Homo sapiens: one gene and its partners. The protein of the gene in region 4 purifies or fractionates together with the protein of the main gene of each other region. This does not show direct contact. Each region holds a gene or a part of one and is shown on either strand. Other genes may lie near its edges.

Region 1 (3,500 bases), on a different chromosome or scaffold from region 4:
GTGGAGTGGGATTCAGCCATCACGCATTGCTGCCTCTTAAAAGGGAAGGCGGAGAAGGGGCAGTAACAGGACAAGAAAACAGGAAGCATGTGCAGGAAGAAGACATGCATCAGCAATGAAGACTGACTTGAAGCCAATAATGAGGATTAATGTTAGATGTCCAAAAGCACAGAAGCTTCTCTCTTCTCTCATTTGCCAGGCCTAGGAAAAGGGACAATTTCCCCTACTTTTATCCACCAAAATATGACCCCCGCCTCCTGCAAACCTGGGGCTTCTGGCTCCAGCTTGTCTCTCTTCCTGGGCTCACTGGCAAAAGCTGACATGAGGGGTTCCTCCTTGGTGACATTAGCAGAGGGTCCTCCTGGCCTCTGCTCCTCAGAGGCTGTCTCTCCTGTTTGCTCTTGCGTGTGGCTGTGAGATCTCAAGAAAGCAACCAAGCTGGGGTCTAGAGGCGAAGGTAGAGGGGAGAGTGAGTGAGGGTAGATCCTCCCTGGCCTCCTACAGACCTGGAACCCGCTGAATATCGCCTGTCTGTGGGTGCCAAGGACAGGACAAGCTGCTTCCGAGCCTGGGCCTGAGCCTTCTGGGTGCTCCTGTGGCCCATCAATGACCCAGCCTTCTCACACCTGTGGGGTCACTAGGCCCACCTGCCCACCTGCCCACCTTTCCCTCTATCCCTCACAGTCCACTGGCCCAGGTTCCTATGCCTATCCCTTTGGTTTCAGGTCACAGTTCCAATGTAAGTGGCTGTAGAATGAATAAGTTAATGTTGACTAGGGCCAAAAAGAAGGCATTTACAGAAAGAATTTCCTTCTCTTAGCTAATTTATTTATGCACACACACATATATATATATATATATATATATATATTTTTTTTTTTTTTTTTTTTTTTTTTTTTTTGAGACGGAATCTCGCTGTGTCGCCCGGGCTGGAGTGCAGTGGTGCAATCTCAACTTACTGCAACCTCCATCTCCCAGGTTCAAGGGATTCTCCTGCCTCAGCCTCCTGAGTAGCTGGGATTAAAAGTGCCTGCCACCACGCCTGGCTAATTTTTGTATTTTTACTAGAGACGGGGTTTTACCATGTTGCTCAGGCTGTAAATATATATTTTTAAAGAGATAGGGTCTTGCTCTGTTACCCATGCTGGAGTGCAGTGGCACAATCGTAGCTCACCACAGCCTCAAACTCCTGGGCTCAAGCAATCCTCCCGCCTCAGCCTCCCAAGTAACTGGGACTACCGGCATGCACCACCATATCTGGCTAATTTTTTTTTTTTTTTTTGAGACAGAGTCTCACTCTGTCGCCCAGGCTGGAGTGCCATGGCACGATCTCGGCTCACTGCAAGGTCCGCCTCCCGGGTTCAAGTGATTTTCTTGCCTCAGCCTCCCGAGTAGCTGGGACTACAGGCGTGTGCCACCACGCCCAGCTAATTTTTGTATTTTTAGTAGAGACAGGGTTTCACCGTGTTGGCCAGGATGGTCTCAATGTCTTGATCTTGTGATCCGCCCACCTCAGCCTCCCAAAGTGCTGGGATTACAGGCGTGAGCCTCCACACCTGGCTGTAATTTTTTATATCTTTATTTTTTGTAGAGATGGGGTCTCATGATGTTCCTCAAGCTGGTCGTAAACTCTTGGCCTCAAGCAATCCTCTCACCTCAACCTCCCAAAGTGCTGGAATTACAGGGCAAGGCACCATACTGAGCCCTAACACGTATTATACTCTATAGAGGTGCTAGTATACAGTGGGTAACAAGATTGACTGAGTGCCTGGCATTTTGGTGAACAGACACTAGGGGTGAGGCATAGCATAGAACAGTATCACAGAGTAGAAGAGACTATACATATACTAGAGTATAGCTATAATAAAGCATAGTGTATACTATACCAGGGTAGTACAGTTATACATAGCACAGTGGTTAAAAAGTAGGGCCTCGGCTGGGCACGGTGACCATCTCAAAAAAAAAATCGCAGCACTTCAGCAGGCCGAGGCAGATGGGTCGCTGGAGGTCAGGAGTTCAAGACCAGCCTGGCCAACATGGTGAAACCCATCTCTACTAAAAATACAAAAAAATTAGCTGGGTGTGGTGGTGCACATCTGTAATCCCAGCTACTCAGGAGGCTGAGGCAGGAAAATCGCTTGAACTAGGGAGGTACAGGTTGCAGTGAGCTGAGATCGTGTCACTGTACTCCACCCAGGACAACAGAGCGAGACTCCGTCTCAAAAAAAAAAAAAAAAAAAAAAAAAGCAGGGCATATGAGACCAGGTAGATCTGGGTTTAAATCCTGTGTCCTGTGCTTCTTATAAGGTGTGTGACCTGGGTAGAATTTCTTTTAAATTTTAGGCCTCAGTTTCTTTCATAAGTAAAATAGGGTTAATACCACCTACCTCACAGGACAAGTTTAAGGACAGAACTGAATAATGCATTAAAGGTCAGGCACGGTGGCTCATGCCTGTAATCCCAGCACTTTGGGAGGCTGAGGTCGGTGGATCACTTGATGCCAGGAGTTCGAAACTAGCCTGGCCAACATGGTGAGACCCCATCTCTACTGAAAATAAAAAAAATTAGCCAAGCATGGTGGTACACACCTCTAATTCCAGCTGCTGAAAAGGCTGAGGCACAAGAATCACTTGAACCTGGGAGGCAGAGGTTGCAGTGAGCCGAGATCGTGCCATTCCACTCCAGCCTGGGTGACAGAGGGAGACTCTGAAAACAAAAAACAAAAAACAAAAACCAACCTGTGCAATATAGTGAGACCTCATCTCTACAAAAACCTTAAAAGAAATTCGCTGGGGGCCAGGCACGGTGGCTCACACCTGTAATCCCAGCACTTTGGGAGGCACTTTGATCCACCTGAGGTCAAGAGTTCGAAACCAGCCTGGCCAATACAGGGAAACCCCGTCTCTACTAAAAATACAAAAAATAAAAAAATTAGCCAGGCATGGTGGCAGGCGCCTGTAATCCCAGCTACTTTGGAGGCTGAGACAGGAGAATTGCTTGAACCTGGGAGGCAGAGGTTGCAGTGAGCAGAGATTGCGCCATTGCACTCCAGCCTGGGCAACAAGAGGAAAAATCCGTCTTAAAAAAAAAAAAAAACCTAGGCGCAGTGGCTCCAGCACTTTGGGAGGCCAAGGCCAGTGGATCACCTGAGGTCAGGAGTTCGACACCAGCCTGGCCAACATGGTGAAACTCCGTCTCTACTAAAAATACAAAAATTAGTTGGGTATGGTGGTGGGCACCTGTAATCCCAGATACTCAGGAGGCTGAGGCAGGAGAATCATTTGAACCCAGGAGGCGGAGGTTGCAGTGAGCCTACGTCGCGCCATTGCACTCTAACCTGGGCAACAAGACCGAAACTCCATCTCAAAAAAAAAAAAAGGCCGGGCATGGTGGCTCATGCTTGTAATCCTAGCACTTTGGGAGGCCGAGGAGGGCAGATCACCTGAGGTTGGGAGTTCGAGACCAGCCTGACCAACATGGAGAAACCCTACCTCTACTAA
Region 2 (3,500 bases), on a different chromosome or scaffold from region 4:
TAAACATTAATAAAAACTTCCTCATCATTATGAGACACTGAAACTCTATAGGGACTCTTTGGAAACCCTTCAGGAATATTATTATTATGACTTAAAGTGTCCTAGCTAGGAGGCAGGAAGACGGACAAAATGACCAGTAGTCTCCTGGCCCTAGGACTTTAGAGATTTTGTGCAAATAAACATGATACAGTCTCTGGTCCACATACTTAAAGTCCTTTAACCAGGACTGACTTACCCTGAATTGCAGATAGATATACAAAAGTGTCTTCATGTTCCAAGTTTTCCAAGAATATCTGGAACCACAAAATACAGCAGTGATAAGATTTACAAAGAACAAGGAAGATTTAAGAGGCTCCCTTATCAGCAGCTCAAAGGAGTAAATGCTTCGCTTCTTGTTTTTCTTGGGTAGAAACTGGTCTGACAGAGTTTTGTGGGGGAAATGGCATATATGCTTAAGTCTCATTTTTATAACCATTAAAAAAGTATAGAGACTGGGGGAGATACTTGTATTCTTCCAGCAGTAGTCCTGGAAACCGATGGAAGAACAATCCTCAACATTTTTCCATGACAGCCATGGTGAATAACATTCTCACATATGGCATGACAGACTACGGGGTGTGACACACAAGAGACAAGGTTTGGGGTTATGTGCAATGGATGGCACATTTGCTGCAATTTGATCCTTTTCTCTTGTACTCACAAAGCATATGGAAGTGCAAGTGAGATAGAGATGTTATTATTGAGATAACTTTGAATCTGTTCTAATTTATTTTTGAAAATCTTGTAAATTTCAGCACTTTAATTGATATTAGTAACAAATTACTCTCAAAATATCTTACAATTTAGGAACCTATCAGGGGTATCAACTACAGTGAGTACAGCTTATCTGGAAGATATTACATGATATGTTAGGTTTAGGCCCCAACATGAGAGCCAGAGAAAGGAAGACGGAAGTGTCTGCTCCATATATAATGCTGTGTTCTTCGTTGGCACAGTAATTCTTGACATCAACTTGATGCTGCTGGTCTCTACATGTGAAGTATGTACGGAGAGCCTAAAATTACCCCAGTTAGGAAGACGGCCAGTTTTGAAGGTAGGGAATCTTTTATGGAGTAAGCAAGGGAAGCTTAATTTAGGGTAATGGCCATGGAAATAAAGAGGATAAGATACATTTGAAAGACTTCTTTGAAAAAAGAATTGACAGGACTTGGTGACCAATTATGTACAGCAGAAGAAGGTTTAATTAAGCTAAAAAAAATTCCAAGATGTTCATTGAATTCACCTTCAAATAGGTGTATAAAAGGATATTTAAGGCCAGGCGCGGTGGCTCATGCCTGTAATCCCAGCACTTTGGGAGGCCGAGGCAGGTGAATCACTTGATGTGAGGAGTTCAACACCAGCTTGGCTAACATGGTGAAACCTCATCTCAACTAAACGTACAAAAATTAGCTGGGTGTGTTGGTGGGCACCTGTAATCCCAGCTACTTGGGAGGCTGAGGCAGAAGAATCACTTGAACCCAGGAGGTGGAAATTGCAGTGAGCTGAGATCGCACCACTGCACTCCAGCCTGGGCGACGGAGCGAGACCCTGTCTCAAAAAAACAAAACAAAACAAAACAAAAAACAGCTATTTCACCACGATGAAGGGAGAGAAGAGGGGAGGAGACCCAGTTTTGCCCAACGCCCCACTAAAGATGCCCAGAGAAAACAGGTGGCTTATCTGGGCTGGGTCACAGTGTTGAAGCAGACCTATTTATCACAAAAGGTACTTTCCCATCTCTGGGAATTTGTTCAAGCTATCCCACCCCTCTTTCATCTGCTCAAACTTTACTAGTTTGTTATGGCCATATTAAGGCCTACATCCTCCAGAAGATTTCAACTTTCTCTTTTTCCTGACTGCCCACAGCATTTCTTGCATGCAAAAATTTTGAAGGATGGGTGTGGTGGCTCACGCCTGTAATCCCAGCACTTTGGGAGGCCGAGGCAGGTGGATCACGAGGTCAGGAGATCGAGACCATCCTGGCTAACATGGTGCCCGTCTCTACTAAAAATACAAAAAATTAGCCGGGGGTGGTGGCAGACACCTGTAGTCCCAGCTACTCGGGAGGCTGAGGCAGGAGAATGGTGTGAACCCAGAAGGCGGAGCTTGCAGTGAGCCGAGATTGCACCACTGCACTCCAGCCTGGGGGACAGAGCGAGATTCCATCTCAAAAAAAAAAAAAAAAAAAAAAAATTGGCACTCAGTTCATATTCATTTGAGGAGTTTAAGTCTTTCCTGTGTCTAAATAAATCTTTCCTGTGTCTAAGTGTTGCCTCCTCACAAAATTCACAAATTTCTGGAGGGTGGTCCAGAACAGCACTTGACACATAGTCCAGGCTCCAAAAATACTTGAGTTGAATGAATGCCCCACCCTGTGCCCATGTGTCTTTACAGTGTGTTCTACTCACCTTGAGAAGCTTCTCTTGCATCTCAAGGGCTTTTGCTTCTCTCTGCTCTATCCAGTGGGAAAGAGTACGCAGGGCAGCAGCCCGTGTTGGAATTTGAGGGTCATAAGCTGACAAAAGAACCTCTTGGAGCTGTTCTGTGGTTACGCTTCCAGATTTCTGACTTGTAGTAGTGCTGGGCTCATTGACTCCTTGAGGAATGATTGGAGCATTTGACTGCAGGCCTGTCTGGGGGGCTGTCTCATGGCTCTGCTGTTGTTCAAGGTGGCTATGAGCTACATCAGTGGGTCTTTCATGACTGGTTTGTTGCTGCTCTTCTATTTTCCCTTCCAGATCTTTTCTGTTCAGTGTACTTTGGGCAGCCATGCTGACGGCCTCAGTGGCAAAGGCTCCATGGGTAGAGATGGTGATGCGGAGATCAACAGCGAGTTCTTGGATGACCGGATCAGGGTATGTGTTGGATACCTTCTCCAACAGAGGCAACAACTGCTTCAGAACAGCAAAATCACTTGACTTCAACTACAAAATGAAATAAAAAATGTCAAACCCAAATTAACATAGCAAATTTCAATATGACCTGAGCACCAGGAAACATATTCTGAGAAAAAAGGGCAGGGATCAAATCTTGCTCATGGTGTAATCAGTGTATTGCCTGGGTCCAGCACTGAATACCATTTGTTGAATAATCATACCTAACATTTATTGAACACTTATCATATACAGGTTCTTTTCTAAGATAAAACACACACACACACATTCATATCCTTGTGATATAATGACTATTATTATCTACATTTTAAACAGGTGGAAACAGAACGGTTAAGTAACATGCCCAAGGTCACAGACTGGAAGATAGTAAGATGTGAACTCAAGAAACTGGGATCAGAGCCCACACTCTCACCCAATACCCTACGCAGTCTCCCTTGAAAAGATAAGGCTGTTCTTAACTACATGATCTAAAGTGGCCAGTCAGTATGCAAGTGCACCATAGATCTGGAAGGGATCACAGAGAAAACGGGAAGAAAGGGATTTCTTCTGGAAAGTGGAAGTGAAAAT
Region 3 (3,500 bases), on a different chromosome or scaffold from region 4:
GACCAGGAGTTTGAGACCAGCCAGGGCAACACGATAAAACCCCATTTAAAAAAAAAGAGTTAAACCATTGTTCAATTTAGAGATCAAGCAAGCTAACAGCTCAGTGACACACCAGACTATTATGAGGACTCTCACTACAGGTTTCATACTCCATGAATAAGCTCTAAAAAGCTCAGGATCAGGAGTCAGACAACCTTGAGTTTGAGTCCAGTCTTACTGTTTACTAAAAGTGTAAACTTGGTCAAGTTATTCAACTTTACTACCTATCAAATTTTCCTTATTTTTTATAAGCATGGCACCTTGCACACAGTAGTGTTCAATGGCCACTACTGTTATTGTTGAATAACCTATGGTGTGGCATCTGGCCAAATATTGACCTATTAGAGAGCTAGGAATAATTTCATAGATTTCTAAAGATACACTCAAACAGCACTACTACAAGGGAATAAACCTAATTGCGTGGTGTATGTTGTGCTGTTTCATGAACACAGATTGCTTCTACAACTAAAAATTAGAAACAAATTATATAACATAATCTGGACATAAGAACAAAGTATAACAAAGGAACAGCCCACTAAACATGCTTCTCTGCAAGAACCCACAGAGTGAAATCAAAGAGTCAGAGCCCAACTTCCAAAGTAGAAAACAAAAAGTCCTCTTACATGGTCCTGGATATTTACATACTCTATTCAAATGTAGAGGCTATATTTATAGAACTGTCCCAATATCAGGTTTCTATGAATCAGGTTCTTCTAGCACATGAATGAAGACCTCACTGCCAGCAGTCTTGTTTTCTTCTCCTAAGAGGACTACTACTAGAGACCTACCTATCTGTCTGTATCTTAAATACCTTTCATTTGGCCAAAAACTTGCCATACTTCAAAACTGGAATGCTGCTGGAATTTGCTATGTATGGGGTAGTCATATGTCCAGGTGGCCTGCAGGGCCACCAAGCCACGTCTCTGGTTATCATCATAGTTGATGAGTCATCTATTAAACGAGGGGGTTGGGCCCTATTATCTTTGAGGCTCCTCTAACATAAATAGCCTGCGATGTAAAGAATCATGATACTACTCCATACCTCAGGGCCCTTAGTCACAGTTTGTTGTTGATAATCATGATAATGATGGCAACTAATCTCTCTACTAAATGTGTTATTAGAGAAGTCCTGAGGGCTGGGCACTGTGCCTCATGCCTGTAATCTCAGCACTTTGGGAGGCTGAGGCCCAGAAGTTCAAGACCAGCCTAGGCAACATGGTGAGACCCCCAACTCTACACACACACACACACACAAAAAAAAAAAAAAAAAAAAAGAACAGGCCCCCGTGGGGGAGCAAGAGCTTGAACAGTCTAGACTGGAATGATACATAATTCCCCAAATTAACAGTTCATTCTATAACTAAAGTTGAGGTGATTAGGACCCAACAGTAGCCAAAGGATTCTGTATCTGTGGATTCAACCAACAATGGCTTGAAAATATCTGAAAAAAAAAAAAAAAAATTTTTTTTTGTGTGTGTCTGTGTTGAACAAGTGCAGGCTTTTTTTTTTCTTCTTGGCATTATTCCCTAAATAATACAGTACAACTATTTGTATACCATTCACATTGTATTACGTATTATAAGTAATCTAGAGATTAAAGTATATAGGAGAGGCCAGGCATAGTGGCTCATGCCTGTAATCAGAGCACTTTGGGAGGCCCAGGTGAGTGGATCACTTGAGGTCAGGAGTTCATGACCAGCCCGGCCAACATGGTGAAATCCTGTCTCCACTAAAAATACAAAAATTAGCCAGGCATGGTGGCACACATCTGTAGTCCCAGCTACTCAGGAAGCTGAGGCAGGAGAATCGCTTGAACCTGGGAGGCGGAGGCTGCAGTTAGGCGACATCAAGCCACTGCACTCCAGCCTGGGCGGCAGAATGAGACTCTGTCTCAAAAAAAAAAAAAAAATGTATATAGGAGGATATGCCCAGCCAGGCTCAGTGGCTCACGCCTATAATCCCAGCACTTTGGGAGGCCGAGGCGGGCAGATCACCTGAGGTCGGAAATTCGAGACCAGCCTGACCAACATGGTGAAACCCCGTCTCTACTAAAGATACAAAATTAGCCGCGCATGGTGATGCATGCCTGTAATCCCAGCTTCTCAGGAGGCTGAAGCAGGAGAATCATTCGAACCCAGGAGGCAGAGGTTATGATAAGCCGAGATCGCGCCATTGCACTCCAGCCTGGGGCAACAAGAGCAAAACTCCATCTCAAAAAAATGGAGGGTGTGCCCAGATTATATGCAAATACTATGGTGTTTTCTATCAGGGACTAAAGCATTAGAAGATTTTGGTATCCACAGATTCTGGTATCCACAGGAGATCCTGGAAGCAATCCCCTTTGGATATTGAGGAATAACCGTAGTATACCACTCCTGAAAAAGAAACTTTTTCTGTGCTCAAAAACACAGAAGAGACAGGGTAAAGGCAACATAGCCCTGCAAAAAGATCCCTGGATATGGAATCTGAAGACCAGGTCTGCCATTTCTTAGCTATGTGACCTTGAGCCTGTATATAGAATACTTCCATCTCCCTCATAAGTTTTAATATAAGAGGATTAATATAAGAGGAATTAATATAAGATGACATACGAAATGTGAAAATGCTTGGGATAATACATAGTACATAGCAGGCACTCAATAAATGTTAACAGGTGCATTGAGAGGAGAGAAAAACAACTGCTCCTCCCATTAAACAAACAAACAAACAAAAAAACTTGCCTATGCTGAGACCTATGCTGTGTCATGCCCTTGACAAACAGACAAGTTTCATTCTTTCTGGGATAGATACATATTTCCTCTCTCCAAGATAACAAAGGTCAGTGAATGAAGCAAGAAGGCTTGGAAATGAGAATCTATATAACACAGTAGAAATTAGATGTTTCCCGGAGCCCGACAGGTATCTCTAAAAGCGGTACAAGGTACAATTTTGCTACCCATTAGAAAAAGAAGGGGAAGAATGGAGCATATTCCCAAATTTTAATATCGTGCTATCCCAACTCATGCCACGTTTAATTTTTTTGTTCAAAGCTAACAGTTATGGGGTGCCTCCTCAGTGGCAGGCACTGTTCTGTGTGCTTTACACATGTAACTCATTTAATCCTGACAACAAATCTATGATATAGTTACTATTATTATCTCCATTTGGCAGATGAGGAAACTAAGCCACAGCAAAGTTAAGTAACTCGTTTAGGGTCACACAAGCCATTAAGTTGAGGATCATAGCCAGGCTGGCTACAGAACCTGTGCTCCGGCCACACCTCTTAGGTACCCTGGTCATTATAACTGTAACTTACTGAGTGCTTCCTAGGTGCATTGTGCCCAGTGTTGGCATTATATTTCATTTAATGTAATCCTCACAATAATTTAAGAGAATGGTGATATTATCCCTATTTTACAGGTAAGGCAACTGAGACTCACAGGCTTAATATAATTTATCCATAGTCATAAAGCTAATAAATG
Region 4 (3,500 bases):
TCTGAAGAGGAGAGCAGGAGAAGGAGGTATGCAGAGACCCCAAAGAGAGGAAAAGGCACAGGCAGACAAGATCAGCAAAGCATCCTGTGTCCAGTGGGCTGAGGAACCAGCTGATTACTTAGTTTGTCTGAAGCAGAGGGTGTAGGGAGAAAAGAGAAAGGAGATAAAACTTTAACCTGTGGTGGGGTGTGGGAGAATAGGGTGGGTATTTATGCAGGGCTTCAAATGCTAGAAGGAGCTGTTTGTTACCTGGCAATAGCAGACTGCTGCTTCCCTGCTGAGCCCCTGGGTCCGCAGCTGTTACCTATTTGACAAATTGTGTCGATCAAATGGGGTTTTGTCTTTGACAGCTTTGCATACACTTTAAAGTTTCCCAAAGTGTTACTAGTTCTTAAATTTATATTTAAAAAGTTTATCTTTCATCACTATGTCAATGGGCATGTTAGATTGAATTACATCACATGAAACATCAGCCAGAACATTGACAAAGTCACAACCTTGGCTTAACATGGGTGTTTCTCCCTGGTTCCAGCATGGTATGGGCATTCCTTCTATCTCAATCATGTTGCATGAGCTCATAAAGCTGCTGTACTATGCCCGGTGCTCCAACGTCACTATCATCCGCATTGGCACTTCTGGTGGGATAGGTAAGGTCTGCAGAGGGGCCTCTTGCCCTGTGAATGGATGAGGGACTGGGGCATGCCAAGGCAGCTTCTACATGGTGTGGCATTAGAGACAAAGAGTTCCTTTCTTGGCTTTGTTCAAGGGAAGCTTGTTAACAGGAGGTGTGAAAAGAAGCTTGTTTTGTTGTTTTTGTCCAACCTGTTCTCCCAACCCGCACCCCAGAGCTAGGCAGTAGAAGGGCACCACACCATGCATATGGGGGAAACTCATCCTTTTGGGGTTACACAATTTGTGCCTTCTTGTCTGCTTGATTCTGTCTTATTCTTTCTAATCCCCCTTCTTCTCCATTCTCTCCTTTCCTTTGCTTACTTTTCCTCCTCCCTAATCCTGCAGGGATTTTGAAGCACCTTAGGAGAAAAGACACAGGAAAATCAAAGGGGGGAAGAGAGAGGCGCAGTACAAAACTCAGATAAGTGTCCTTAAATTAGCTTAAAATGTCCCTATCCTCAACAGGGACATTTTTTTTTTGTTTAAAAAACAAAGATGGTTGGCCGGGCGCGGTGGCTCACACCTGTAATCCCAGCACATTGGGAGGCCGAGGCGGGCGGATCACAAGATCGGGAGATCGAGACCATCCTGGCCAACATGGTGAAACCCCGTCTCTACTAAAATACAAAAGATTAGCTGGGCGTGGTGGTGCACGTCTGTAGTCCCAGCTGCTGGTGAGGCTGAGGCAGGAGAATCGCTTGAACCCGGGAGGCGGAGGTTGCAGTGAGCCAACATCGCGCCACTGCACTTCAGCCTGGCAACAGAGCGAGACTCCATCTCAACAACAACAACAACAAACAAACAAACAAAAACCCCCACAAACATGGCAAAGAAAGAATGAGATTTAATGAGAAAGCAAAAGCTAACAAATTGTTGAATTGTAAGCCAAAGTCTGTTAGGCAGATTTGTTTTAAATACGTGGTCTTGCTCTCTGGGGTTCCAACTCTGTGCCATTCTTTCTGCTAAAAACTGGGTTCTAGTGATTCCTGCTCCCACCGAGGTGTTCAGAGCTCAGGGAAGAAGCCTGCATGTGCCCTAGAGAAAGTTGAGCTTTGCCGCTGCTGGCCAGGCCTGTGTGTACTTGTTCCAGGCTGTCTAGGGCCTGGACTATCTAGGATTTATAGCAATTCTAGAATTTAAGTGTCCTGACCTTGAAAGGGGACTTGCTTTAGACCCAAATATTTTGAATATGTTATCTTGTCTCTTTTCTTTTTGTTATATAGAGAGATTGATGCATAAAATCTGTGTTTGTATGACTGTAATTCCAAGTTTAGCGAAATTGTCCCTAGGACAACACACCAACGGCCATGAGCTGTCTCGGTCCTGCAAGCTTAGTCTCCGATGCTGCCCACCTGACACAGCTGTGCATAGCATGCTGGCCTCTGCCAGGAACTCTAGTGAATGGTTCTTGAGTTCTTGCTCTGGAGTGATTTTTAAAACAATGATCAGATAATTCTGGAGGGAGTAGTATAGATTTTGAATTTTCCTCAATTGCTCTGTAAAAATGGAAAGAGCAACTAGGGAGCAAAACCAAAAACCACTGGACACAGTTGATAATAAAAGGTGATGTGCTATCCTCACAAACCCCAAAGTATGAATGGGTGGAGACAAAAAGCCTCAGGATCTGGTTGTGTTGGCAGCTGCTCAGGGGGAAGCTCAAGGCGATGGACAGACCTGAGAACAAGAGTCCCAGGCACTCCTAGGAAGGTGCAGGGGGACATGGTGAAGATGGCAGCTGACACTGGAGGGGGCCTGTGCGTCCCAATGTGAGTGATGCTGGAATTCCAAGGGGCTTGACCACTCCAGGCCCTGTGGGTTCACCAAGGCATCAGCCAAGCTCTCCTCTAGCTCCAGCCCCAGTGCTGGGAGAAGCTGCTGAAATGAGACTCTGAATTGCCCAGAACAGCCGCAGGAGTAGCAATGGAAAGAGGAGTTCAGATACATGTGGGGAGCGAAGCAAAGGTCTTTGCAATCGGCCATGTTTTTTAATGTTTCATGAAAACAACTGACTTGGGAGCTCTGGAAAAGATCTGACTTCTTGTTCCCTCCCACATGTTTAGGAAAACCAATTTTGCATTAAAATAAGTATCAGAAATGGATCATAGTTATCTTAGTCCCTGCAGGTTGATAGACAAGATGCCATTGACTGAGTGGCTTATAAACAATAGGAATTTATCGCGTAGTCTGGAGGCTGCGAAGTCCAAGGTCAAGGAGTCAGCAAACTTGGTGTCTGGTGAGGGCTAACTTTCGGATTCATAGAGCTCTGTTTTCTCCCTGTGTGCTCACATGGCAGAAGGGGCAGGCAGCTCTCCGGGGTCCCTCTTATAAGGGCACTAATCCCACTCATGCAGGCTCCACCCTCATGACCTAATCACCTCCCAAAGGCCCTGCTGCCTGAAACCATCACATTTAGGGTTAGGATTTCAGCCTATGAATTTTGAGGGGGAAACCAGCATTCAGTCCAGGTCCATAACAATGGTCAAATCCCATCTAAAATTATTATAACACAAAGAATAAGGGGCAGAGTAATGTCCCTACAAACAGGAAACTACTCCAGGAAGGCACGCCCAGAACATAGAAACTGGACCCTAATAATGCATCAATCTGAGAGGAAGGCCAGGTAGGTCAGGAGTTGGTCATAGCTCACCTGGGTTTAGGGTGTGGGACTTCATTATACTGTTCTAGTCTGCCTTTTGCTGGTTTACTTTTCAAGTATTTGCCTGAAATCTTAAATATTAACAAGGTATGAAACAGGGATCAATGAAACACATCATGGTATATGGTTCAGTGACAGACAACAGTGGGAAATCGCCGTGAATGGAAGCAAG
Region 5 (3,500 bases), on a different chromosome or scaffold from region 4:
CAGTTAGTCCTCTCCACTGTCACTCAAAAGTGGCTCATTTTGTGACCAGCCTAGGCAACAGGGTGAAACCCCATCTCTACAAAAAATACAGAAATTAGCCAGGCGTGGTGGCACATGCCTAGAGTCCCAGCTACTCGGGAGGCTGAGGCAGAAGGATGGCCTGAGCCCCGGTGGTGGAGATTGCAATGAGCCGTGAGCACGCCACTGCACTCCAGCCCAGCCCGGGCAACAGAGCAAGACTCTCTCAAAAAAAAAAAAAAAAAAAAGGCCAGGCACGGTGGCTCATACCTGTAATCTCACTCAGCACTTTGGGAGGCTGAGGTGGGTGGATCACCTGAGGTCAGGAGTTCAAGACCAGCCTGGCCAATATGGTGAAACCTCGTCTCTATTAAAAATACAAAAATTAGCCAGGCGTGGTGGCAGGCGCCTGTAATCCCAGCTGCTCAGGAGGCTGAGGCAGGAGAATCGCTTGAACCTGGGAGGCGGAGGTTGCAGTGAGCTGAGATCGCACCATTGCACTCCAGCCTGGGTAACAAGAGTGAAACTCCATCTCGAAAAAAAAAATTGTCTCATTACATAGGCAAGCTTTACTACAGTCCCTCGACTAAATAGCTGAGTTCGAATATAATTCATACCTGAAATGGTGCATTTGCAGTGGGAGGAGGTTAGGAACATGGAGAGAGTGTCGTATTTCTTCAAGTATATGGACAGAACATTCCTCACGTGATTCTCAAACGTGGTCCCAGAACTGCAGCCTCAGCAGCTCCTGGGAACTTGTGAAAATTTGAAATTTTTGAGCTCCAACCCAGCCCAGACCTATTGAATCAGAAACTCCAGGAAAGAGGCTTACAAGTGTGTTTTAAGAAGCCCTCTACTCAGGAGGCAAAGGCAGGAGGATTGCTTGAGTCCAGGAGTTCAAATTCCAGCTGGGCAACTAATAACAAGACCCTGTCTCTAAAAAATATAAAAATAAATAAATTTAAAAAGAGAAGCCCTCCAAAACATTCTGATGCCCACTTGCTTGAGTGTGAGAATACTGCTTTAATCTTGCTAGGATCCCTCAGAAAAGAGAGTGGGTGCAGTGCTTTCTGGCATTATTCTTTTCTCTGGGTGGCTGGGCCCAAATAGCCTCATTGTGAGCTTCTTTCCCTGTTGATGTCTTTTTTTTTTTTTTTTTTTTTTGAGACAGGATCTCACTCTGTTGCCCAGTCTGGAGTTCACTGGCACAATCTCAGCTCACTGCAGCCTCGACCTTCCTGGCTCAGGCGATCCTCCCACCTTAGCCTCCCAAGTAGCTGAGATCACAGGCATGCACCACCATGCCTAGCTAATTTTTAAAATTTTTTGTAGAGACTGGGTTTTGACATGTTGCCCAGGCTAGTCTCGAACTCCTGGACTCAAACAATGCACCCACCTCAGCCTCTAAAAGTACTGGGATTACAGGCGTGAGCCACCACACTCAGTCTTGCTGATGTCTTAATAACATCTGACCGCAGCCCTGCCTTAAGCACCAAACCACCTCAAAACATGGCCTTCCTTCCTGCAAGGCCATAGAGAATAAGAAGAGTCTGGCCGGGCGCCGTGGCTCACATCTGTAATCCCAGCACTTTGGGAGGCCAAGGCAGGTGGATCATGAGGTCAGAAGATCAAGACCATCCTGGCTAACATGGTGAAACCCCATCTCTAATAAAAATACAAAAAAAATTAGCCGGGTGTGGTATGCAATCACAGCTACTTGGGAGGCTGAGGCAGGAGAATGGCGTGAACCTGGGAGGCGGAGCTTGCAGTGAGCCAGGATCGTGACACTGCACTCCAGGCTGGGCGACAGAGCGAGACTCCGTCTCAAAAAGAAAAAAGAAGAGTCCATCGTATCTCACAGGCCAGGATGCATGTTTTGGCCTCCTGCCACCAGCCTTCACTTTTACCTTCTGTAAAATGGTGTTCTAACAGTATTTACCTTACCCAACAGTTAAAAGGATTAACTGACCTTATGCAGGTAAAGCACTCCACAGAGTGCCTGGCCTATGAGTGCCCAGTAAAAGAAAGCAATTAGTAATACTGGCACTATGATCGTAGTATTATTTGGTCCTATCTTATTATTATGGATTTCTAACTTAGCACCATCCCAATCTCTCTCATGTATGTTTTGAAGTAAGCAAAGGCAATAGCAGAAACAGAATTGGTTTGCCTGGTCAGAAGACAGCCTGCTTTCTGGGCTGAGAGAAGCAAAACAAAATTGCACAGCATTTCAGGATGCAGTACGTGGGCAAAGGCTTCCTTCCTTTTTTTTTATTTGCCTTTTTTTTTTTTTTTGAGCTAGAAAATTCAAGGAAATTACTTGAATTTGTTACAGGCTCCAAATACAGTTATTCCTCTGCGTCTTAAGCATCTAGAACTGAAGTGGAAAATTCCACTCTTTCAATAATGGTTAGCCATCTTAGCTCAGGCCATGCTGTGGTTTGAAGGTTTGCCCCCTCCAAAATGCATAAGCGTACTTTGGAGGGCTTCTCTTTTCAAATTTATTATTTATATACACTTTTAGAGACAGGGTCTCGCTATGTTTAATTGCCAATGCAACAGTGTTGGGAGGTGGGACCTAATAAGAGGTGTTTAGGTCATGAGGGCTCTGCCCGGTGAGTGGATGAATACCGCTATAAAAAGGGCTTACAGTATGGATTCTCTCTCTTTCACTCTCCTGCCACATGAGGAATAGTGTTCCTCCCCTCCAGAGGATGCAATGTTCAAGGCGCCATCTTGGAAGCTGAGACTGGGTCCTCACTAGACACCAACTTGCCAACAGCTTGACCTTGGACTTCCAAGCCTTCAGAATTATGACAAATAAATTTCTGTCCTTTATAAATTACCTAGTCTGGGATATTACGTTACAGCAGCACAAAACGGACTAAAACAGGCTGCTATAACAAAATACCATAGACTAGTGGTTTAAACAGCAGACATTTATTTCTCACAGTTCTGGAGGCTGGGAAGTCCAAGATTCAGTTCTTGGCGAGGGCCCTCTTTCTGACTTGGCCATTTTCTCACTATGCCCTGACAGGATGGAGAGAGAGAGTTTAAGAGTCTCTTCTTCTTCTTATAATAGCACTAATCCCATCATGGGGGCTGCCCCCTCACGACCTAATCTAAACCTGGTTATCTCACAAATGCCCCACCTCCTAATAGTATAGCGTTGAGGGTTAGGACTTCAACAGAAGAATTTTAGGGAGACACAAACATTCAATCCATAAGAGAAACTGAGAGCCCCATGACTTCACTGTTCCAGGCCCAGGACATACCACAACACATGTTAGAGACAAAATCTCTGCCCTCAGAAAGTTTGTAATATAATAGGAGGAATTAGATAATAAAGACATTTATTTCAGGAGACTGTTAAGTGCTATGAAGAAAATTAAAGCAGGAGAAATGGATACAGAGAGTTGGAGGCAGTAGTGGGAGGAAGCCATTTTAGATAGGTGATCGGAGAAAGCGTCTCTGAGAAGGTG
Region 6 (3,500 bases), on a different chromosome or scaffold from region 4:
ACCTTGTCTTCTAAACGGACCTGACAATTCCCTCCCTTGTGGTCCCCATGCACCCTGAAGACACACCTAAGTCAGCCCTTCTGCACTTGCTATTCTATGTGCTTCATTCCTCTTGCCACGAGCCCTCCAAGGGACAGGCTGTCTGTGTCACACCTGCCTTTCTCCGCTGGCACTTAGCTCCCTTCCTGGCCCAGAGGACAGGCACCCAAGGACAGCCTGTCTGGGGCTGAAAATACACCTAAGTCCCCACTGCCAAAAATAGGGCTGAGGACACATGCCCAACGACCAACAGTGGCCTGTCAAATGTTTTTAAAACCCAGAAAACCAATTTCTACACACTATTCTCAAAAACACATGCATGTTTAAAGGAAAATCACCTTTACACTGCATGTGAATTCTTTATTCTTTAAACAGCACTCTCTAGGTCCCCCCCAAATATTTTAGACAGGCGCTATGGAAAACATACTGGTTTTTCACTATACATAAGTAAAAGATTTTATTTTATATACCAGGAATTAATATATTAAGGCTGCAAGAGGCTTCACACATCCACTAGGTCCAATCCTTTCATCTTTGGGTCTCGAAAAATTACTTGCCAAAAATCATTATTGGCCGGTCAGAGGAAAAATCAAGAACACTCTTGCTCATACAAGAGGGCTCTACTTCCCAGAGCTGCCTCCTCCGCAAGAGTCCAGGAGTTATTTTTATGTTGACATGTTTACCAGCACTCCCAAGCCCTTTCTTAAATGCTGTCCAATACATTTTAAAGTTGACAACCCAACTTTTTCAGAAAAATAAAATATAACCTGATTGTATCAGGCACTTAAACTACTAATTATACTAAAATATTAAAGTAACTTCATTTTTCAGCACACTATTAAAAGGAACGGTGATACTTGATACAAAATACTGAAATTGAGGATTTTTTTTTCCATATGCAGTTTTGTTGTATTGAAACCTATTAACACCCCAGTACTGACAAGACAATGAATTAACAACTAAATGTAAATCTGCCCACCTGGTTCTGCAATATTATTGACTAATAGATAACTAAATGCTAACACATCTCAGTTTTCTCCACAGTTCTCTGAAGCATGCAAAAAATATATATATATTACTTACCAAAAACAGAGAACCATATTCAAAAGTCTCATTCATAATCTCTTGTTTCAGCTCTTGTTTTTCCATAGATGTCCCATTTTCTTTTTCACCCTTCTTTTCAGGGCTAATCCTATCAATGTTGGGAACATAGGTCATTTCCAAACATTCTGCACTTTCCATTTTAACAGGGAGTATGCCTTTGATCTTCTGAAACAACGCAGAAACGGACCCGGTCTCGCATGCTGAGTTAGAAGAACTGGCTTTGTCAACATCTTCCTGATTCGATTTCACGGCAGATGTTGTTCTTGGAACCCTGTGTGAAGCATTTTTAGAATGAGTTGTAACATGCACAGCCTGGCTAGTAATGAGTTTATTAAACTGCTGCTTATGTGTCTTGTTAATTAGAATTTCTGCTTTTTTGTCTGCATTCAAGTCAGATCTCGGTGTTCTGCTCAAGACTGTTTGTTGTCTTGAATTCACTGATGAGGGTGATGAGGCACTGGTCTGCTGAGGTCTGGGCGTGACCTTTGATAAAGCAGCATCTTTGGGCTGCAACACTGCTCTAGACATAACTTTTGCTTTGACATTCTTGAAGTTTGGTCTTGGGTAACTTATAATTTCAGTTTTTCTAACTTTGCAGCCTATTGGGGTATTCGTTTTGATTGTTGATTTTCCTAAACTGGGTTTACACAGGTTCACAGGTGCCTCCTTCGAGTCTGGTATGTTTTTAAGCCCTCGATTACCCTTCTCCACTTTCTTACATTTCTCCGTCGCTTCAATCGGTGAAACAGAAAAGGTTACTTTTGTGGGTTCTAGGACTGGTGTTGACATGCACATCGTTTTGTCTGTGCTAATGACCATATCATTTGCATCCCAAGTCAGTCCAAATGACGAGCCCACCTTTTGTCCTGGCGGGCTACTTAGAATCAATTCTGAGGTATGATTTTGGGTTCCCAAATCCTTTCCTTTGGAGACCATTTGTGTGTCTTCAGTCTCAGTGACTTTATGCTCTGGGTTCAGCACTTGAGCTTCGCTCTTATCAAAAGCTGGCACCATTAAAGGGCATTCATCATCAATAAGACAATAGGACACTGTCTCTCTCAGATTTTGGCCCATTTCCTTGTGCCTGTATGAGCTCTGTGAATGTGGTTCGCTATTGGATTCATCATGGGATAAACAAAAGAACTCTTGTAATGCAGAATCATTGGGGACTTCCATGCCATCAGAAACTGGTGTTAGTGCTTGTGTCTCCTTTTCTCCAACTAGTCTTTGTTGTGATCCATCTGTGTACTCACTGGTGACCTTTCCTGAAGAACATGCACACTGATTTCCAATATCTGAAACAAAAACCTCACTTTGCATCACCACATCAGAAAATGCTGTGTAAGTCATGTCTTGGGCTTCTGATGGTGTGACTTGAGGGTTTTCAAAGCTTTCTCTATCATAAGTAGTTTCTCTTGCATGCGTCTTATCAGAATGGGAAGATGTCCAAGTGGAATAGGATAAAGAAGATGTACTTCCACTTCTCCTACCAGTTGGTGGCAGGCTTCCAGCAGTATGGAAGGACTGACTCTTTCCGATGGCATGATGTGATATAAAGGTGCAGTTAACTTTATCCACTGTCATGTCAAATGTTTGGTTTAGCTCCAAGGCATCACAGTAGCCTGCACAGTTCAAATTGTCATTAGGCTTCCACACAAAAGGCAAAGATGGCTCAACACTCTGGCCCTCAACTGCTTCTAGGGAATGACAACTGTGTTGCAGATATTTGGGCTTCTCAGTACCTACAAGTGCAGGACACTGACAAATAGAATCTTTATGCATATCTAACACCTGCTTACTAATGAAATCACTAGAAGACTTTTCATGACCAAATACTTCAACACCCTGAAGGCTTAAAGAAATATTTTCACCAGTAACTACAGCAGGGTCAGTTTCATAATCAACCACCATGTCATCTGGGTTGGCAGAATTCCAGTTCACACTGCTGGCTGAAGAGTTTTGTGTAGGTGGTGATTTCGGGTTGTATGCATGTGTATTTCCATCTTTATCACTGGTAAAGAAGGTTTGCAATTCATCTTCTATTTTATCATCTGAATTATCATCAGTCATCCTGAATAGTAACCTTAAACCTCTGCCATTTTATTTCTTCTTCAATTCCTTTTAAATGAGAGGGTGGGCAAAATGGTCTGTCTTCTAGGTTTTTCAGCACAGTTGAAAGGTTTTCAGTCTAAGATGCTCTGAAGATTAAATGATTTGTTGTTCCCTGGAAGAAATAAAATGTTTAACTCAAGTAACTATAAGAAAAATTAACAGGCCACCCCTTGGTTTCAATCACTAAGTGATTAGTTTCAATCACTTTATGTTCACATTTAGACCCCACAACTACTGATGTGGGT
Region 7 (3,500 bases), on a different chromosome or scaffold from region 4:
AAAAGCTGGTAAAAGATGTATTTGTAAGCCATATTCTATCACCATCTCCTTTTTGGTGGAGATATTAACAATTCAATTATATCCAAGAAAATGCATCAGAAAATTCTATTTATAATATTCTATTGTGGTTTTTTTTTAATCTACTGAAATTCTGTCTTCAAGATTTAGCTTTTCCAAACTCAACATATGCCACATAAAAAAGACATGAAAACAGAAATTTTAAAAACAAACAGCATTTTACTTCAAAGCATCAGTATCCTGGACTCTGGAACTGCGATAAGAAACTTTTACTTGATTCTCATCTTGATTAAAGCCATAATTAGACAGTAGATGACAAAGCAAGGCCACAGCTAACCCATAAGGCAACTTGGTGAAAGTGAGGGAAAAAGCCTGTGTGTGCCATAAGCTACGTGCACAATGCACTGTCATAAAAGACAGGTGCAGACTTCGTCACACGAGGAGCACCAACTTTAACTACTAGACACGTCTGTAGATCTCTATTGTCACTTCAGGGCATGGACTGAGAGTCGTATGTTTCTAAAGCCACCTTGTAAGAATTGAACCTTTCCCCTATTAAGGGAACTATCATTTATTCCTACTGTTAGATGTCCACAGGAAAAAAGGTTGATTAACTTACAAATTTAATCAGAAGCCTTTTATATCCTAATTTATTTATCCATTCTAAGGTACATAACTGTGGTCTAGAAAATTAATTTTAAGGAAAAAAGCAAATTGATATCACAATACTTTTTTTTTCAATTTTTTTTTTCAATGTTTTTTTTTGAGACAGAGTTTCGCTGTCAACCAGGCTGGAGTGCAGTGGCGTGATCTCAGCTCACTGCAACCTCCGCCTCCTGGATCCAAGCAATTCTCATGTCTCAGCTTCCCAAGTAGCTGGGATTACAGACATGTACTACCACGCCTGGCTAATCTTTGTATTACCATTATTATTATTATTATTATTTTGAGACAGGGTCTCACTCTATCGCCAGGCTGGAGTGCAGTGGTGCGATCTCGGCTCACTGCAACCTCTGACTCCCTGGTTCAAGCAATTCTCCTGCCTCAGCCTCCTGAGTAGCTGGGATTACAGGTGTGCACCACCACACCCAGCTAATTTTTTTGTATTTTTAGTACAGACAGGTTTTTACCATGTTGGCCAGGATGGTCTCCATCTCCTGACCTCGTGATCCACCTGCTTCAGCCTCCCAAAATGCTGCGATTACAGGCGTGAGCCACCGTGCCCGGCCTATTATTTTTTTAAATAGAGACAGAGTTTCGCCATGTTTGCCAGGCTGGGTAGGAGAATCGCTTGAACCTGGGAGGCGGAGGTTGCAGTGAGCCGAGGTCACACCACTGCACTCCAGCCTGGGCGACAGAGTGAGACTCTGTCTCAAAAAAAGAAAAAAAAAATCATTAAAAAAAAATCCAAAGAAAATTTGGTGTAACACATGGCATTAGTCAATGGTGCCACACAACAAACAACCCCAAAATCTCTGCAACTTACAAAACATTTATTTATTTCTCCCTCATGTTACATGGGGGCTATGAGTCACTTGTGAGTCTATTCTTTGTGTCTTCTCATTCCAGGACCCAGACTGAACGAGAAATCTCTGAAAACCAGGCTGTTCTCATGGTAGAGGGCAGAAGCACAAGACAGACTGAGCCAAACCACACAGATGCATTTGACATTTTCTGCTTCAACAAGGCATATGTTAATATTCCCTAACATCCCATAGGACAAAATAAATCACATGGCCAAATAGAGTGACCAACCTGCTTGGTTTGCCCAGGACTAAGAGGGCTCCCAGGACACAGGACTTTCTGTTTTAAAATCAGGAACATTCCAAACAAACCAGGACAAGTTAACTATCCTACGTGGCCAAACTCCAAGGTCAAAGGGCAGGGAAATGTACTCCACAGAGGGATGGTGGGTAACATTTTGAAGCAAAAATACAATCTACCACAGACTTGAATAAGTCATTCACAAACAAAATCAAAATCAAAGAACTCTAAATTAAAACAATAAGATACCCTCTTTTTGTTTGTTTTATTCTCAGGTTAGTAAAGTTTAAAACACGATATTCAAGGCCTGGTGCAGTGGCTCATGCCTGTTGCAGTGGCTCATGCCTGTAATACCACCACTTTGGGAGGCCGAGGTAGGAGGATTGCTTGAGCCCAGGAGGTCGAGACCAGCCTAAGTAACATGGCGAAATCCCAGCTCTATAAAAAAATTACATAAATTAGCCAGGTGTGGTGGTGCACACCTGTAATCCCAGCTACCCAGGGGACTGAAGCAGGAGGATCACTTGAGCACAGGAGGTGGAGGTTGCATTGAGCCGAGATCTTGGCCACTGCACTCCAGCCTGGGCGATAGAGTGAGACCCTGTCTCAAAAAACAAAAACAGGAAGACAGGATAGCAACAAGGGACACAAACATTTTTTTTTTTTTTGAGATGGAGTCTCACTCTGTCACCCAGGCTGGAGTGCAGTGGCGCAATCTCGGCTCACTGCAAGTTCGCCTCCTGGGTTCACGCCATTCTCCCACCTTAGCCTCCCGAGTAGCTGGGACTACAGGCGCTCGCCACCGCGCCCGGCTAATTTTTGTATTTTTAGTAGAGACGGGGTTTCACCGTGTTAGCCAGGACGGTCTCGATCTCCTGACCTCGTGATCCGCCCGCCTCAGCCTCCCAAAGTGCTAGGATTACAGGCGTGAGCCACCACGCCCGGCAGGACATGAACATTTCTGTTTCTTGATCAGGGGCTGGTTACACAGTGTGTTCATTTAATGAAAATTCATCCAACTGTACACTTATGATTTATGCACTTTTTTGCTTGTATATAAAAAGGTTTTTTTGGGGGTTGGTTTTTTGTTGTTTTTGTTTGTTTGTTTGTTTGTTTGTTTTGAGACAGAGTCTCGCTCTGTCGCCCAGGCTGGAGTGCAATGGCTCGATCTTGGCTCACTGCAACCTCCGCCTGCCAGGTTCAAGTGATTCTCCTGTCTCAGCCTCCTGAGTAGATGGGACTACAGACACGTGCCACCACGCCCAGCTAATGTTTTGTATTTTTAGTAGAGACAGGGTTTCACTGTGTTAGCCAGGATGGTCTCGATCTTCTGACCTCGTGATCCACCTGCCTCGGCCTCCCAAAGTGCTGGGATTACAGGCATGAGCCACCGCACTGGGCCTTATAAAAAGTTTTTTAAAAATAGCATGTAAGGGCTAATGCCATTTTAAAAATAAATCAAATATACTCATACATCAAAATGTCACCATTAATAATAGTTACTCCAGGCAGTGGGAAATGTTAAGAGAAACACACTACCTTTATGTTAAAAATAAAACAGAATCTGTAGTGCAAAAGATACAATGTTTCCAAAAGGGATGATTAATTTGGAATGTCATCAGAGGTATGAACAATGTATCAATGACCATGAGAAAATTCACATATTCATAGCATACGATCTAGTCACTCTAAATCTGGAACTACATCCTAAAGAAATT

Evidence for each region.
Region 1: the proteins of UPP1 (region 4) and RPAP1 purify together in Homo sapiens (affinity purification with mass spectrometry; one large-scale study listed by BioGRID and IntAct). This does not show direct contact.
Region 2: the proteins of UPP1 (region 4) and TANGO6 purify together in Homo sapiens (affinity purification with mass spectrometry; one large-scale study listed by BioGRID and IntAct). This does not show direct contact.
Region 3: the proteins of UPP1 (region 4) and RIC8B purify together in Homo sapiens (affinity purification with mass spectrometry; one large-scale study listed by BioGRID and IntAct). This does not show direct contact.
Region 5: the proteins of UPP1 (region 4) and CDA purify together in Homo sapiens (co-immunoprecipitation; one large-scale study listed by IntAct). This does not show direct contact.
Region 6: the proteins of UPP1 (region 4) and MTUS1 purify together in Homo sapiens (affinity purification with mass spectrometry; one large-scale study listed by BioGRID and IntAct). This does not show direct contact.
Region 7: the proteins of UPP1 (region 4) and CTPS2 purify together in Homo sapiens (affinity purification with mass spectrometry; one large-scale study listed by BioGRID and IntAct). This does not show direct contact.

The regions. Positions count from the first base shown.
Region 1 is NC_000015.10:41,530,758-41,534,257, forward strand, and holds part of RPAP1 (RNA polymerase II-associated protein 1), read right to left. Parts: intron 446-3,500; coding exon 266-445; intron 1-265. UniProt on the Homo sapiens protein: Forms an interface between the RNA polymerase II enzyme and chaperone/scaffolding protein, suggesting that it is required to connect RNA polymerase II to regulators of protein complex formation.
Region 2 is NC_000016.10:68,927,031-68,930,530, reverse strand, and holds part of TANGO6 (transport and Golgi organization protein 6 homolog), read right to left. Parts: intron 2,964-3,500; coding exon 2,448-2,963; intron 294-2,447; coding exon 236-293; intron 1-235.
Region 3 is NC_000012.12:106,777,682-106,781,181, reverse strand, and holds part of RIC8B (chaperone Ric-8B), read right to left. Parts: intron 1-3,500.
Region 4 is NC_000007.14:48,102,765-48,106,264, forward strand, and holds part of UPP1 (uridine phosphorylase 1), read left to right. Parts: intron 1-532; coding exon 533-647; intron 648-1,017; coding exon of another isoform or gene 1,018-1,097; exon of another isoform or gene 1,098-1,503; intron 1,504-3,500. UniProt on the Homo sapiens protein: Catalyzes the reversible phosphorylytic cleavage of uridine to uracil and ribose-1-phosphate which can then be utilized as carbon and energy sources or in the rescue of pyrimidine bases for nucleotide synthesis.
Region 5 is NC_000001.11:20,595,597-20,599,096, forward strand, and holds part of CDA (cytidine deaminase), read left to right. Parts: intron 1-3,500. UniProt on the Homo sapiens protein: This enzyme scavenges exogenous and endogenous cytidine and 2'-deoxycytidine for UMP synthesis.
Region 6 is NC_000008.11:17,752,595-17,756,094, forward strand, and holds part of MTUS1 (microtubule-associated tumor suppressor 1), read right to left. Parts: intron 3,368-3,500; 5' UTR 3,214-3,367; coding exon 1,123-3,213; intron 1-1,122. UniProt on the Homo sapiens protein: Cooperates with AGTR2 to inhibit ERK2 activation and cell proliferation. May be required for AGTR2 cell surface expression. Together with PTPN6, induces UBE2V2 expression upon angiotensin-II stimulation.
Region 7 is NC_000023.11:16,699,170-16,702,669, forward strand, and holds part of CTPS2 (CTP synthase 2), read right to left. Parts: intron 1-3,500. UniProt on the Homo sapiens protein: Catalyzes the ATP-dependent amination of UTP to CTP with either L-glutamine or ammonia as the source of nitrogen. Constitutes the rate-limiting enzyme in the synthesis of cytosine nucleotides.